3 linked regions of the Homo sapiens genome follow. The protein of the gene in region 3 purifies or fractionates together with the protein of the main gene of each other region. This does not show direct contact. Each region holds a gene or a part of one and is shown on either strand. Other genes may lie near its edges. The genes, in order: RABGAP1L, CAMK1 and C19orf38.

Evidence for each region.
Region 1: the proteins of C19orf38 (region 3) and RABGAP1L purify together in Homo sapiens (affinity purification with mass spectrometry, with the first as the bait; one large-scale study listed by BioGRID). This does not show direct contact.
Region 2: the proteins of C19orf38 (region 3) and CAMK1 purify together in Homo sapiens (affinity purification with mass spectrometry; one large-scale study listed by BioGRID and IntAct). This does not show direct contact.

Annotation. Positions count from the first base shown.
Region 1 is NC_000001.11:174,274,410-174,278,062, reverse strand, and holds part of RABGAP1L (rab GTPase-activating protein 1-like), read right to left. Parts: intron 2,964-3,653; exon of another isoform or gene 2,874-2,963; intron 2,231-2,873; coding exon 2,128-2,230; intron 1-2,127. UniProt on the Homo sapiens protein: GTP-hydrolysis activating protein (GAP) for small GTPase RAB22A, converting active RAB22A-GTP to the inactive form RAB22A-GDP. Plays a role in endocytosis and intracellular protein transport.
Region 2 is NC_000003.12:9,763,415-9,767,067, forward strand, and holds part of CAMK1 (calcium/calmodulin-dependent protein kinase type 1), read right to left. Parts: intron 3,237-3,653; exon of another isoform or gene 2,722-3,236; coding exon of another isoform or gene 2,477-2,721; coding exon 2,345-2,476; intron 1-2,344. Other genes in the region: OGG1 (N-glycosylase/DNA lyase), read left to right, coding at 2,395-2,721. UniProt on the Homo sapiens protein: Calcium/calmodulin-dependent protein kinase that operates in the calcium-triggered CaMKK-CaMK1 signaling cascade and, upon calcium influx, regulates transcription activators activity, cell cycle, hormone production, cell differentiation, actin filament organization and neurite outgrowth.
Region 3 is NC_000019.10:10,854,816-10,858,468, reverse strand, and holds part of C19orf38 (protein HIDE1 precursor), read right to left. Parts: intron 2,205-3,653; coding exon 2,112-2,204; intron 154-2,111; coding exon 126-153; intron 1-125.

The sequences.
Region 1 (3,653 bases), on a different chromosome or scaffold from region 3:
TTCCTTTTTAAATATTTTTTAAAATTTATTTTCTTTACAATTTTTAGTTCTCTGTTAAAGGAAAGTCCAAATAACCAAGGCCACCACTAGAAGAAACCCTCAATAGTGTTTTTAAATATTATATAACATTCAGATTCATCAACTACTTCTCAAATTCAATAACAATTTTATTACATTCTTACTAAATACAGTCTTACTAAATACACCTGCCAATTCAAGAGAAACTAAAATTTGTTAGACATTATACTTGACCTGGAGGACCTTAGAGAAAGGAGTAAGGAGTAATAACACAAGACAGAATATAACATTCAACTGGATCTTAGTGCAGTGGAAAGATCCAAGACTTTTCATCTCTCAGGTTCTAAACTTCTTCCATAAAAATCAAACTTTATTTGATCACACATTCTCTGAGTAATGTGTAATTTCAAGGACATAATTTAGAAATTTTAAAAATCAGGGCAACATTTTTGTGTGGCATATGAGATAATGTTAAATTTAAAATGTATACTTTGAATCAGAATATTATAATATACTATTATATAGTTTAATAGAATAAATTATAAATAAATTTTCTTTTGTGGACCAAATATATATTTTATTGCAAAATAAAACTAAACTAGGTGTTACATTAAAAACATAAAAACTATTTTTATAACTTGATATGCAAAATTCTTATATTTTGTTCTTCAAAACTGTCAACTGGCTTATTTTTATCATTTTTGTGGCTTCCTTCTGAACAAGTATAAGAAAGAAGTTACAGGTATTTGCAAGCCTGTCTCCAGAAATAACAAATTGTGGGTCTAAAAATTATTTACTGCTAATAAATGAAAAGTTAAATTTTATATAATCTTTTTTTCTGTTTAGCCTTTATTTTTAGACAGCTTAATATGTGATCAATGTATGTGATTTATATAAATGGTGAATACTCTCTTTAAGGAAATGAAAGAATAATTATCATTTTAATGCCCTTCATTAACATATTATATTTTCATATCAGTATTCACGAATGCTTCCTGTCAGTAACCAAAAGTCTACTGTGGGTATAAACTAAATAATATAAAAATTAATGATAAAACAAACTGATCCATTATATTCTAAATATGAATTAATGGTTTAATGACAGTAAAGCACTTAGGGTAGGCATATAACTCGGCAGGTAAAACTTTAAATTTAGTTTAAAAGTAGATAATGAAGGGGCAAAAAACAGGCAATTAACAGCTATCTGGATGAAGTAGGAATGAAAAAACACAATGGAACAACGAAAAATGTGACTATTCAACATTTATACATTCTGTTCAATACTAGACATGATAAATAATATGAAAAGTTAAAAAACTAAGAAAAAACTATTTGCTACAACTGAAATATTTAATATATATTACAAGCATCCCGAAGGCCAAAAGACTGGAGCCAATAATTAATAAATGAAAAACTATAAGTAAACTATAATGCAAAAATAGTTAATAATTTAAAAATATTCAAAATTCTAAAATATTTCCTTTTCATCATTTTCTTTAATATTTCTCCATCACTAGTCTCCACAAATGAAATAACTCTATAGTGGTATATGAAAAACAAAGCCCAAATGCTTTCTCTATAATCTAATAAAATTAATTCAGGCCAGGTGCAGTGGCTCACATCTGTAATCCCAGTGCTTTGGAAGGCAAGAAGATCAGTTGAGGTCAAAGGTTCAAGACAAGCCTGGGCAACAAAGCATGACCCCATCGCTACAAAAATAAAATTTAAAAATTAGCCATGCATGGCAGCACACACCTGTAGTTCTATTTAATAGCTACTCAGGAGGCTGAGGTGGGAGGATTGCTTGAGCATGACAGTTTGAGGTTACAGTGAGCTATAATGCCCCTATACTCTACCCTGGGCAACAGAGTGAGACCCTGTCTCTTAAAATAATAACAATAATAATAATTCACATATCTTTTGGGGAGGATTTTTTTAAATAGTGGAGATTTCCCCCATAGAAGCATAAAGAATAAAAATGAACCTCAAATTCTCAATGAAAGAATAAGTCCACTTTGAGTTCCAAATTTTTTTTAAAACATGACAAGCAACATTGTTCATAATATAAAATGTAAAGCAAACAATAAGGGATCTTTTAAGAAAAGTCACCTTTTGGGGTTTCCTCGTTAAGTGCCAGAAATACTGGTGCATTGGGGTTCCACATGCCAGTGATGACATAAGCTCTCCCATCATAGCTCTTTCCCATGGATTCCTATAAAAATTCAAACAGTAATTACTGATAAAAGACATCAAAAAAATCACTACTTTAAATTACATCTTACTTTAAGCAATACAAATTATTAAAATTTAGATTAACAGTCAAGCAGGAGCTTTATATTCACTGTAAATTCTTTTCATCCTACAAAAGCATTTATTTAAATATTAAATTCTTCTACAGCTTTCTTCAAGCACAGTTTCTATTTAAAGACATGTACCCTTGGATAAAAGGAGGCATATACTTACATGCTGAATCAAAAAAACATAATATTGTTACAAAGTTGTATTTAACTTGATCTTGACACCAATTGTCCAAATCTCATATACACATAAGAATGTATATGGTTTCTATTAAAACAATAATATAGAATTAGCTGAAGACAGTTAAACTGAACTAGTAGCTAATCACAGTAGGGAAAGTTAATATTTTTCTTCTAATATTCTAATTTTTAATGAATTCTTAAAATATTAATTTAGTTTGTAGCAATTAATACCTTTAAAATTAACACTTGTCTATTTTCTATATGTCAGATATTTATATACTTTCTTACAATCATAAATTAGTATTAGGAGACTAATTTTTGGTTTGTAAGCAGCATCCAAGTGTATTAACTCTCTCCCTCTACTGTTACACTTACTCCCTCTTTCTTCCCTTCTCTCCTTCCTCCTCTTCTCCATTCTTTAAGACTTTACCAAGCCAGCTCTTGACTCTCACTAAAAAAGCCAGCAACTCCTATGGCGAAAGCTAGGCTACTTATAGCTTGTGTATATGTGTGTGGAGAGAGGAGGGGTAGAGTTTGTCCCATGAAAGAACAACACACAGCATACAAGTATTTCCATATGCAAATGAACAGTATCTACAATATTTCAGTTTTTGTAGCGATTTCCTCACATTATGAATAGAGACTGTTAAAAGGGTCAGACTAAAACAAAGAGAAAAACTTTTCTTTTTTCATTATTACCCATTCACAGATGTTTCTCTGAACCCCCTATAAAATTGTGTCAGTCATTTGGTAATTACTATGTATATTTTTCTAGTGTATTAGTAATACTTCACTAATCAGATTGTGTAGCTTGAGCGCAGGGACCATGCATTCCAGAGATGAAATACACTCAAGGTCACTTGTAAACGAAACCCTCTCAGCAGCCCCAACACACTCATATGATAATGGTCTCTTTCTCTCCTCTACACACACACACACACACACACACACACACACAGAGTCACCTGTTGCTTAATGATAGGGTTATGTTCTAAGTTATGTGTCATTAAGTGATTTCTTTATGCAAATAGAATACACCGTACTTATAAAAACCTAGATGGTATAGGGGCTACACAACTAGGCTGTTGCTCCAAGGCTACAAACTTGTACAGCACGTTACTGTACCAAATACTATAGCAACTATAACAATACCAT
Region 2 (3,653 bases), on a different chromosome or scaffold from region 3:
AAAAAAAACAGCGGTTTAGAGCTCAGGACAGCTCAGCCACCCCCAACCCCCGACCACTGCCTACATACCTGGGTAGGACAAACCAAGGATCTCGTCCCCAAAGGGAAAAGCTAGCTTACCATGGTTTATTACCATTTTTTGGAAGGTGAGAGAGCAGAGGGATAAACACTGGGCTCTGGCATACACAGACCTGGGTCCAAATCCTGCCCGTCACATGCTATTTGGGTGCAGATCTTTTCACCAGTGAGCCACTGCACCCAGCCTGATACATACCTCTTAAGAGTTTTCTGGCTAGGCACAGAGACTCACACCTGTAATCCCAGCACTTTGGGAGGCCAAGGCAGGCGGATCACTTGAGGTCAGGAGTTCGAGACCAGCCTGGCCAACATGGCGAAAACCCATCTCTACTAAAAATACAAAAATTAGCCAGGCATGGTGGCACATGCCTGTAATCCCAGCTATCTGTGAGGCTGAGGCAGGAGAATTGCTTAAACCTGGGAAACGGAGGTTGCAGTGAGTCGAGATCATGCCATTACACTCCAGCCTGGGCAACAAGAGCAAAACTCCATCTCAAAAAAAATATATATATATAGTTTTCTGTGTTTACATGTTTGTCAGCCTCCCCCACCAGACATAAGCTCCCCGAATCCAGAGGCTTTGTCTTGCTTGCCACTGTTCCTCCAGCACCTGGTACAGGGTAGGTGCTAGATTTAATGTAACCTCTCTGAACCTCAGTTTCTTCATCTATAAAATGAAGCCAATGGTAGTACTTCCCTCAAAGAGTTGGAGTGAGGATCATGTGAGATAATGCAGGTAAGGTGCTTGGCACAGTGCCTGGCACACGGTAAATACTCATAAGTGAAACAATAATGGTAATTGATTTTTTTTTTCTTTTTTTGAGACGGAGTTTTACTCTTGTTGCTCAGGCTGGAGTGTTGCCCAGGCTGGAGTGCAATGGCATGATCTTGGCTCATCACAATTTCTGCCTCCTGGGTTCAAGTGATTCTTCTTTCTCAGCCTCTCAAGTAGCTGGGATTACAGGCATGCGCCACCATGTCCAGCTAATTTTGTATTTTTAGTAGAGACGGAGTTTCTCCATGTTGGTCAGGCTGGTTTGGAACTCCCCACCTCAGGTGATCTGCCCACTTCAGCCTCTCAAAGTGCTGGGATTACAGGCGTGAGCCACTGCGCCTGGCGTTTTTGTTTTTTTTTTGTTTTTTTTTTTTTTTTTGAGATGGAGTTTTGCTCTTGTTGCCTAGGCTGGAGTGTAATGCACGGTGTGATCTCGGCTCACCGCAACCTCCACCTCTCGGGTTTAAGCAATTCTCCTGCCTCAGCCTCCCAAGTAGCTGGGATTACAGGCATGTGCCACCACGCCTGGCTAATTTTGTATTTTTAGTAGAGACAGGGTTTCTCCGTGTTGGTCAGGCGATAATTGATCTTGATGATGAGGAAGGCTCAGCTCTGCCACAAACTTGCCATGTGACTGTATACAAATCCCTGTCCTCTCTGGGTCTTATTAGAAATGCTCTGCCAGGAGTTGGGTGTGGTGGCTCATGCCTAGCACTTTGGGAGGCCGAGGCGGGTGGATCACCTGAGGTCAGGAGTTCGAGACCAGCCTGGCCAACATGGCGAAACCCCATCTCTACTAAAAATACAAAAATTAGCCGGGCGTGGTGGCAGGTGCCTGTAATCCCAGCTACTAGGGAGGCTGAAGCAAGAGAATTGCTTGAACCCAAGAGGCAGAGGTTGCAGTGAGCCAAGATTGCGTCACTGCACTCCAGCCGGGGCAACAGAGTGAGACTCCATCTCAAAAAAAAAAAAAAAATTATCTGCCCAGGGTGGTTGGAAGCTCAGGGGAGAGATTGGAAGTGATTCTCTGTAAGTTTTCCAGTGAGGACAGGAGGTTTCATATCAGCATGAGCAATTCATAGACCAGTTGGTTGTGGATTTAGTCTGGGGGTCAGCAGACAGTCATTTTTAAACTTGCTGAGTGGTTTTAATATGTGAGGGGAACTTGAGGTAGGTCCAGAGACAACACCAACTGAGATATGTGGGTCCAAGCCATGTTCAGGATGGATCTTTACACCTGATTGAACAGTTAAACCCCTGTGACTAAGCACTGGCACCTCCATCACATCTGTCATGTTAGGCCAGGCACTTGAAATAAAGGACTTCTGATGTTCCCCACAACCCTGCCAAGTGGAAATTGTGATCCCCATTTTATAAAGGGGCAATTTAAGGCTTAGAGAGTTTAAATGATTTGTCCAAAGCAGGAAAGGAGGAGGATGGGAGGGCCAAGGCAGGGTCAGCTTGGGGCAGGGAAAGGCTGTGGCCCACGCACTTGTGCAGGACAGCAATCTCATTCTCCATGCTGCCTTCCTTGCCCTCCAGGGCCTCCTTGGCAATGCATTTGATGGCCACCAGCTTCTGCGTCCTCTTATCTTCTGCCAGGATCACCTCCGAGAAGGCCCCCCTATCGGGAGAGGGGATTCACAAGGTGAAGAACTGGAACCCCAGCTTCCCTCCAGCCTCTCCTCCATTCCCTATGGGTTCTGTGACCACTGCTGGACCAAGGACGTGGATGACCCTCCCCTAGTCACTCATCCATCCCCTGGCTCCAGAGATGGTCACATGACCCAGGCCTGGCCAGTCAAAGTAGTCTCTCCCCTGGCCACAGTAATTGGTCATGTGATGCAAGCCAGCTTACTAGCACTTTGAGAATGAGTCTCCTGTTGAGCTGGTAGGATGTAAGCCTGGAGCTAATGGCGATCATCTTTGCCACCACCTGGGGAGAGCCTGCTTGGGAATGAAATTAACACAAAGGAAGTCCAACCTGAGAAATGGCCAAATATATTTCCTGATAACATTATGTGGCCCTCTGGATCCAGCCATGCCTGAGGTCTACCCCTGGGCTTTTGGATTATGTGTACAGTTGGTTCATCCCTTTTTCTGCTAATTCGAGTCATGGCTAATTTAACACCCTTTAGAACCTTAAAGAACCATCAGCATCACCCGGGAACTTTTTTAGAAATGCAAAATCTCTACTGCTTTGGATCCTGGGTCAAAAAAAAGAAAAAAAAAAGAAATGCAAAACTTTAGGCCCTGCCCCAGATTTACTAAATCAATCTGCAGTTTAACAAAATCCTCAGGTGATTTGTATGCTCATTGAACTTTAAGAAGCAGTGTTTTAGAACAGGTTCTTAAAAAGGAACAAATAAACTCATTTAACTAAAGTTAACTGATTAAAGAGGATTTGCTAGGGTATTCTTTCCACATCTGTTTGCTTTCTCTGGGAGAATAAGAAGTCATAAGTCAAAGAAAAGCATCTCTCGTGGTGAAATTTCAATCCTCAGGGATAATTAGTTACTGTAGTAACCTCATCACTGGTTTCCAGTCTTGTCCCTCTCCAATTTACCCTCCAAGCTGTGGCCAGAGTGACTATCCTGAATTGCACACCTGCCAAAAAGTCTTAAGTGTCTCCCGGTGGCCTATGGGACAATATCCAGCCTCCCTGGCCTGGCTTCCAAAACCCTACACAAACTGTCCCACTTTCATCTCCAGCCCCTTTTTCCACTCTCCCCCCAGCCTGTGATTTTAAGCTCCATCACACTCTACCTCTCTCCACATAGAACCATGCCTCTAAGCCTTTG
Region 3 (3,653 bases):
GTTCCTATTACGCAGCATGCCCACCAGGAGGCGCTGTTTGTGGGGGGCATGGAGTGCCCACCCTGCCAGGGAAGTGTCCTTCTTTCCCCAAACCACCCTCTGTGGGTCTCCAGGGATGATCTCACCTTTTCTTCTGTAAATTTCTGAGTTTAACTGGAACAAAAAAGAAATGAGCATGTGTTAGATTTTGGTCCTAATTGTATCCGGCAATTTCTGTTTTTTTTTTTTTTTTTTTTTTTTTTAGACAGAGTCTCATTCTTTCACCCAGGCTGGAGTGCAGTGGCTCAATCTTGGCTCACTGCAACCTCTGCCTCCTGGATTTAAGCAATTCTCCTGCCTCAGCCTCTCGAGTAGCTGGGATTACAAGTGTGCATCACCAGGCCAGGCTATTTTTGTATTTTAGTAGAGAAGAGGGTTCGTCATGTTGGCCAGACTGGTCTCGAACTCCTGACCTCAAGTGATCCACTTGCCTCGGCCTTTCAAAGTGCTGGGATTACAGGCAAGCCACCCCACCCAGCCTGGAAGGCCTCAGATTTTTCTTTCTTTCTTTCTTTCTTTCTTTCTTTCTTTCTTTTTTTGTTGTTTTTTGAGACAGAGTCTCGTTCTGTCGCCCAGGCTGGAGTGCAGTGGTATGATCTTGACTCACTGCAACCTCTGCCTCCCAGGTTCAAGCGATTCTTCTGCCTCACCCTCCCATGTAGCTGGGACTACAGGTGCACACCACCACGCCCGGCTAATTTTTGTGTTTTCATTAGAGATGGGGTTTCACCATATTGCCCAGGCTGGTCTCAAACTCCTGACCTCGCGATCTGCCCACCTCGGCCTCCCAAAGTGCTGGGCCATCCTGGACAACATGGTGAAACCCTGTCTCCACTAAAAATACAAAAGTTAGCTGGGTGTGGTGGCACGCACCTGTAGTCCCAGCTACTCGGGAGGCTGAGGCAGGAGAATCACTTTAACCTGGGAGGCGGAGGTTGCACTGAGTCGAGATTGTGCCACTGCACTCCAGGCTGGCAACAGAGCAAGTGAGTCGAGATCGCCTCACTGCACTCCAGCCTGGGTGACAGGGCAAGACTCCATCTTAAAAAAAAAAAAAAAAAAATATATATATATATATATATATATATATGTATGTGTGTGTGTGTGTATGTATATATATACACACATATATATATACATACACACACATATATACCCACACACATACACACACACACAAACACACATAATTTGGCTGGGCATGGTGGCACATGCCTGTAATTCCAGCATTTTGGGAGGCTGAGGCAGGAAGATCACTTGAACCCAGGAGTTCAAGACCAGCCTGGGCAATATAGCAAGACCCTATCTCAACAAAAAATATTTTTTAAAAATTAGCCAGGTGTGGTAGTGTGTGCCTGTGGTCCCAGGACTTTTGGGAGGCTGAGGTGGGAGGATTGCTTGAGCCCAGGAGTTACCCAGCCTGGGCAACACAGCAAGACCCTGTCCTAAAAAAAATAAATAAATAATTAGCTGCATGTGGTGGCACGCACCTGTGGTCCCAGCTACTTGGGAGGCTGAGGCAGGAGAACTGCTTGAGCCCAGGAGGTCAAGGATGCAGCGAGCTATGATCCTGCCATTGCACTCCAGCCTGGGTGACAGACTGAGTCTCCAAATAAAAAATTTTTAGGCCGGGGACTGTGGCTCATGCCTATAATCCCAGCACTTTGGGAGGCCGAGGTGGGCGGATCACCTGAGGTCAGGAGTTCCAGACCAGCTTGGGCAACATGGCAAAACCACATCTCTTCTAAAAATACAAATATTGGCGAGGCATGGTGGTGCACGCCTGTAATCCCAGCTACTTGAGAGGCTGAGGCAGGAGAATTGCTTGAACCTCGAAGGCGGAGGTTGCAGTGGGCCGAGATCGTGCCACTGCACTCCAGCCTGGGCGACAGAGCGAGCCTCTGTCTGAAAAGAAAAATAATAAATAAATAAATAAATACTTTTAAAAGGGGTGTGATGAACAAATTACTGAACCTGAAAACAAAATGGTGTGAGTTGTGAGTGTAAGCACATCTTCACGTTCCAGAAGTTGTCAACTGGCAACTTGTGTGCCAGGCTTTGCGTGCTGTTACCTTTTCTGACCACCAGGGCAACAGCCACCAGCCCAGCAAGGAGGAAGAGGGCACCAGCCAGGCTCAGGGAGAGCACCAAGATCCAAGTGGGCACTGGAGGAAAATCAGAAAAGAGAGTGGGCAGGTCAGTGTCGTCTCTCCAGGTTACCTTTGAGTAGCCAGCCCTTACCCCATAACCCCCAACCAAAGAACATGAATGCAGCTGGACCCAAGAGACTTAGCAAACTTTGTGTCTGGCCAATTAGCCTATCCCCCGCTCCTGGCTATTGTGATTGGTTCAGGATGAGCATGTAACCCAAGTGGAGCCAATGAGAGCTAACTCTGGGACTTTGGTGGTACCACTGGGAAAAGAGGTTTACTCCTCTGGCTAGCATTGCATAGGATAGATATCTTAGGCCAGGTGCGGTGATTCATGCCTGTAATCCCAACACTTTGGGAGGCTGAGGCAGGTGGATTACTTGAGGCCAGGGGCTCAAGACCAGCCTAGCCAACACAGGGAAATTCTGTCTATATTAAAAATATAAATAATTGGCCAGGCGCAGTGGCTCACGCCTGTAATCCCCACACTTTGGGAGGCCAAGGCAGGTGGATCACTAGGTCAGTAGATCGAGACCATCCTGGCTAACACTGTGAAACCCCGTCTCTACTAAAAATACAAAAAATTAGCCAGGCGTGCTGGCACGTGCCTGTAGTCCCACTTACTCAGGAGGCTGAGGCAGGAGAATCACTTGAACCCGGGAGGCGGAGGTTGCAGTGAGCTGAGATGGCGCCACTGAACTCCAGCCTGGGTGACAGAGCAAGACTCTGTCTCAAAAAGAAACAAACAAAACAAAAAACAACAAAACCCCACAAATAATTAGCCAGGTGTGGTGCACACCTGTAATTCCAGCTACTTCAGAGGCTGAGGCACAAGAATAGTTTGAACCCGGGAAGTGGAGGGTGCACTGAGCTGAGATCGTGCTACTGCACTCCAGCCTGGGTGACACAGAGAGACCCCATCTGAAGAAACAAACAAAAAAAGAGATGGCTGGGCACGGTGGCTCACGCCTGTAATCCCAGCCCTTTGGGAGACTGAGGTGGGTGGATCACCTGAGGTCAGGAGTTCGAGATCAACCTGGCCAACATAGTGAAACCTCGTCTCTACTAAAAATACAAAAATTAGCCAGGTGTTACGTGCCTGTAATCCCAGCTACTTGGGACGCTGAGGCAGGAGAATCGATTGAACCCAAAAGGTGGAGGTTGCAGTGAGCCGAGATTGGGCCATTGCCTTCCAGTCTGGGTGACACAGCTAGAATCTGTCTCAAAAAAAAAAAAAAAAAAAAAAAAAGAATATATATCTGAAGCTTCAGGGCACAATCTTGCCTCCATGAGGGGGAGAAACTACCTGAGAATAAGACAGAAGAGGAGCTGAGAAGGCAAATGCTTTCTGTCATTTTTCAGCACCTGGATCCAGCCATATCTGAAGTCAGCCATGTAAACTGACTTCAGCTCAGTGAACCAACAAATCCCCTCTTGCTGGTAGAGCCAGTGTGAGTCAGGTTT